Linked DNA regions of Homo sapiens: region 2 is linked to region 1. Evidence: fine-mapped expression QTL. A gene starts in region 1. The other region holds a variant in brackets. All regions are shown on one strand. Distances are from middle to middle.

Region 1 (2,500 bases):
AGTAGCTGGGACTACAGGCATGCACCACCCTGCCCGGCTAATTTTTTTTGTATTTCTTAGTAGAGACAGGGTTTCACCACGTTGTCCAGGCTAGTCTCGAACTCCTGACCTCAAGTGATCCGCACGCCTTGGCCTCCCAAAGTGTTGGTATTACAGGCGTGAGCCACCGTGCCCGGCCTTGTTTTTGTTTTTGTTTTGGAGAGAGGGTCTCACTCTGTCTCCCAGGCTGGAGTGCACTGGCACAATCACGGCTCACTGCAGCCTTGACTTCCCTGACTCAAGCGATTCTCCCGCCTGTCTCCCAAGTAGCTGGGACAACAGGCGCGCCACCGTGCCTGGCTTTTTATTTTTTTTAATTATAGAGTCGGCGTTTTGCCATGTTGCCCAGGCTGGTCTTGAACTCCTGGGGCTCAAGCCATTCGCCCTCCTCAGCCTCCCAAAGTGCTGGGATTACAGGCGTGAGTCACCGCGCCAGGCCTTCAACCTAGTTTGAAGATGGGGTTTCCCGGGAGGAACCCTTCCCAAGGCTGGGTTATCACCTGGCAAAAGAAGGGGACTTCCGAGGTCGTTTGGTGAAGGCCTTCAGCAGATCTGTTTCACGAGCAAACTTCAGACTCCAGCTCCATGGGGGCCTATTAGCCCCACCCTGGTCTGCCTCCCTGAGCCTTCCTGAGCCGAGCAACTCCACTTCCTTATTCCATTCACGTTTAGCACACTCATTTGCACTTTCAACACCTGGGCGATTAATTCTTGCCCTTTTCCCAAAGTTTTCCCTCTTGACAAGAGGAAAGCTTGCATTTCTATGTACCCCGATTAGGCACGCTCGCTCTCTCCTTAGAGCACCTCTGGTTCACCTCTCCCACGCCCCCTGCATTAGCACAGGCGTTTCCAGAGTTGCACGCGAGCTCATTTGCAAGACCGTCTCCCCCTCCCATCCCTTCTTGGTCCCCTCTAGGGCCCAGGGCAGCAGCCCCGCCCCTGGCCCGCCCCCTCCCAGACGCTAGGCAGCCGCGGCCTCCCATTGGCCGCCAGGGCTGGCAGGCTTCCCGGCTGGGGCTGTGATTGCCGCGCTCCAGTGTCAGTCCCGGAGAGAACGCCGGTGGCGGGGCTGGTAGCCCGGCAGCCGCAGGTGGGGCCACGAGCGCTGGCTGAGGGACCGAGCCGGAGAGCCCCGGAGCCCCCGTAACCCGCGCGGGGAGCGCCCAGGATGCCGCGCGGGGACTCGGAGCAGGTGCGCTACTGCGCGCGCTTCTCCTACCTCTGGCTCAAGTTTTCACTTATCATCTATTCCACCGTGTTCTGGGTGAGTGACCCCAGTAGGGCCCGGGGATGGGGGTGGGGACCCACAATCCGGCCGCCCCCTCACTGGCCCGGGGTTGGGTCCACACTTAGCCGCTCCAGGGAGTGCGCGGGTGAGCGCGCGCGGACTCCTTGTCTTTCTACCTCACATTCGGGCGGCCAGAGCTCAGCCTGAATTTTCAGCCGCCCTTTCGGGAGTGTGAGAGCCGGTTGTCGACCGACCGAGTGCCACCTGGCTCACCTGTGTGCACCGGCTGGGCGGTTTGCCCGCTGTGCGTCCGCTGGCCGGCTGGCTAGGCTGAGGTGAACGCGCTGGCCGCGCCCACCACGCCTACCCGGTAGGACTGACTGCCTCTGCATCGGCCTGTGGAGCTTAAGTAGTTAGGATTTGCAGTCGGGGTTGGGAGACCTGGATTCCGGGTCTGGTCCCTGCTAGTTACTTGCTGATGCCCCTGAGCGAGACGCTTCCCCGCTCCGTCTTGGTTTCCTCTTTGGTGGATGCACGTGCCTCCTGCGTGGCGAGGAGAAGTCCACCAGACGACGTCTCCTGCACACCTAGGTGCTCAGTTTCCGCTGTCGCTGGGCTTTACCTCCTCCTCTGCCTTGTTAGGGGGCAGGATGGTAGTGTTTAGACATGAACCAAGCTTTGAATTCCGTCGCTCCGAGTGGTCTTTTATTTTATATTTTATTTTTTATTTAAAACATTGCTAATCTCTGTATCGTTCCAATTTCAGTTTGTGCGTTTCTGAAATGAGCACTTGCTGAGTGATCTTGGGGAAGTTACTTCATTCCTCTCGGCCATGGTTTCCTCATCTGTAAATGGACACAGTAATTATATTCAACTTGTAGGATGCTCGCGGAGATTACGTGAAATAGGCCGGGTATGGTGCCTAGTGAAGAGCTCAAGAAGTGTGAGACATTATTACTATCGTGGGCAGGGAATTTGGACACCTGTGGTGTAAGCTGCCCCAAGAGATTGGGTTTCTGTAAGGGCGTTTCATATTAGGCTGGGCCCTATTCTAGAGATGAGGATATCTTCCTATAGGCCAGCTCCGCCCCTGTCACTCCAGAATCGCTCTCTGCCTGCAGTATGCCACAAGAGCAGACTTGCCCAGGGACCCAGGGTGGTCACTGACACCCCATTCCCACCAAATACACACACTCTCCCCTGGTGTCCTCCTTAGCCCCTTGCTGGGTCTCT
Region 2 (3,017 bases), 51 kb after region 1:
TTCTGGCTGTATTTTGCAAGTAAGCCTACAGGATTTGCTCGCATAGCAGATGTGGGCGATGAATGAAAGAGAGAAATCAAGGAGGATACCCAGGTTTTGGTCTGAGCCACAGGAAAGACGGGGCTGCCACTGCCTGAGAGGGGAGGACTGCAAGGAGGCAGGCTGGGTGACCAGGAGCTCACCGTGGACGTGGGGGGTTTGAGAGCCTGTTCAGCATCCCATCAGGGGTGTCAAAGATGCGGTTGGATATAGGAGTCTGGAGTTCTGGGAACGACTAGGCAAGGGGTGTAAACACGGACATCATCTGCAGATAGGGTAGAATCTAAAGACAGCATCTGAATGAGAGCACTGAGGTAGGGAGGAGCCTTCCCCTGGCCGGGGTTATCTGACCCTGTGTTACACATGACCATTGAGTCTCCCTGTGCCACCACACCTGGATGATTTTCTCTAAATGTGAAACAGGGCGTTCGCTTCCTCCATAGAACTGGTTGATTTGTGTCCAGATCTATTTATTTTACACTGTACTATTCAACCTGGGATTTGAATGAGTACACGGGAAATATGTAGTGTAAAAAACTAAAATAGCATTAAAAATCAGGACTGTGGGAATTGTATTCTCAGATAGGAGGCCTAGATGATGGAGAAAAATATAAAATCCTGCTATCTAAGCCTCAGGACCTCATGGACTCACTGAAAAGGAGCTGAGCCTCGTGTCTGGTGGCTTGGAGCAGGGCTCCCCTACCTCCAGGCCATGAACCAGTACCGGTCAGTGGCTTGTTAGGAACCAGGTCGCACAACAGGAGGTGGGCAGAGGTTGAGGGAGCATTGCCACCTGAGCTACACCTCCTGTCACATCAGCAGCAGCATTAGAGTCGCATAGGAGTGTGAACCCTATTGTAAACTGTGCATGCAAGGGACCTAGGGTGCATGCTCCTTATGAGAATCAAACTAATGCCTGATGATCTGAGGTGGAATGGTTTCATCCCGACACCATCACCCCCCACCCCCCCGCACCCCATCCTGTGGAAAAATTATTTTCCTTGAAACCAGTCTCTGGTGCCAGAAAGGTTGGAGACCACTGGCTTAGAGTTTCCTGGCAACCAAAAGGAAAAGGGAGACATGGTCTGTTACATTGTTACTGTTCAGCAGAACATACCAGCAGAACATACCAGTTCTTCAGGGAAAGTAACCTTTTCCCTAACACTCAGCTTTAAAAGAAATGTCTTATATGAGCTTCCAATAGAGGATTTGAGCCATAGAAGTTCACATAGGGCTGTAAAATCTGGTTATACCAGGATATATCCCTCGGAGATGTTG[G/T]TGCAGAGGGCAGCGTGCTTCTACATTAAATGGCTCCAGACTGCTGTGCCTGCTGAGCTCTTGGGACCAATTTTCACGTACCTCCCCTCCCTTGTTGTTGGCTACCCCTTGGGGGCCTGTCGCGAAGGCCCCTCTCCCTGTCCCCATTAGCTGCTCAGTCTTTTCAGGGTGAGAGGATGCACACACAAACATTGCTGTGATCTTCTGGCTGCCCAGGAGTCCCCCTTCTGACTTCCTGTCCTGTGGCCCCGTGCAGGATGGAAGAGGCTACTGGACCCTGGTCTTGGGGCCTGTGAACTTCAGCAGAGCCTCTTGCAGAATATCGATTCTATGGTCAGGCAGGTAAACCCAGGCAGGCTTTACTTTTGGAAAGACTATGGATGCATCGTATCCCCTCACCCCTTGGTGAGGGGCTCTCCTGGCAGGGTGAGGTGAGTCCCCCCTGGGCCTGGAGAAGGGTTCTGGGCTCTGATGCCAGAGAGGCCTCTGCCAGTTGCCTGTGTGCTAAGAGACTCATCCCCCGAGGTCACCAGAGCTGGCCCAGTGAAGTCACTCTTGTCACCTCCCTACGTACCATGCAGCTTACCTATTTGTTATGTTCATTATCTCCCTTTCTACAGTGTAAGTTCCATGAAGGCAGGGACTTTGTCTTGTTGTTCTGTATTTCAAGTGACTAGAACTGGGATTGACATGCAATAGGTGCTCAGTTAATATTTGTTCAATGAACAAATGAATGAACCAATGAGATGGAAAGCACTCACTCCCATCATGTGCCCGTGCACCTGCTCTCCAGGCCTGACCCTCTCCATAGGGGTTGTGTTTATGGCCTGGAAGGGCCAAAAACACTGGCTGACTAATGCCCAGTGGGCACTGGGCATGGCTGGGACTGAGGCTACCTGGAGAACCAGCTAAACCGAGGGAGGTCGTCTTGCCTGCACATCAAGCCCTGACATTTAGAATGACCTAGATGACATCTGAGGCCCAACCCTCTCTCGGAAGGAGAGAAGACACCCTCCCTTTCCTTTGCAGGGGCTGGAATTGTGAACAAATCACGCCAGCCAGCATTCTTGTGCTCCTCCATGTGCCCAGCCCCGTGATAAGCACTTTATATGTGTATCTCACTTTATGTCCAAAACAGCCCTAGGAGGTGGGTTCTGTGATCATCACAACCTATTCATTCATTCATTTTCTCAGTTAACAAATATGTATTGAGTACCTCTGCGTGCCAGTTCCTTAGCAGCCCACCTAAGGTTGGGCTCTGCTCCTAAGTGGCAGAGCAAGATCTGGACCCAGGAAATGTGACACCAGAGGGCACGCTGGGGGCTCTGCTGTTGCCCTCCTGAGTCATCACTGGCGCCTGCAGCACTCACGGCAGCGTTCACTTACATGTAGAGCAGCGGGGCTGGGGGGGACGGTCATGGGCTGGACCAGGAAGTCTCACTCTCTTCCCTGGTGGTTGGAGAAGGAGACCCTGCGGGGCACAGGTGGTGATGGGAAGTGCCCGCGGCAGCCTGTGAGTTAGGGCCTGCCTGGGGAGGGGTTTGATGAGGTCTAGGGCGTGACCACAGGTTTCCCTATGCCTAAATTAATCAGTAGTCGGGAGTTCTGGAGAGCACCTCTCTTCCCAAGAAGGAAGTTTTGGCAGCACTCTCCGCTGGTGGAGCAGTGGTCTATGGAACGGAAGCATGGCCAGGGGCCCT

Evidence for each region.
Region 2: its variant is fine-mapped to the expression of TSPAN15 in esophagus muscle (GTEx, PIP 0.92).

The regions. Positions count from the first base shown.
Region 1 is chr10:69,450,388-69,452,887 of GRCh38, forward strand. TSPAN15 (tetraspanin 15) reads left to right here and starts at 1,078. Exons shown (of 8, transcript NM_012339.5): 1 at 1,078-1,303. The coding sequence starts at 1,208. RefSeq lists enhancers at 1-99, 100-717, 667-806, 1,598-2,098 and a silencer at 927-1,236.
Region 2 is chr10:69,500,975-69,503,991 of GRCh38, forward strand. All of the region lies in intron 5 of TSPAN15 (tetraspanin 15), which reads left to right. Among named protein-coding and RNA genes, the nearest start is that of TSPAN15, 51 kb to the left of the region's middle. The variant G/T (reference allele first, on the strand shown) is at 1,318.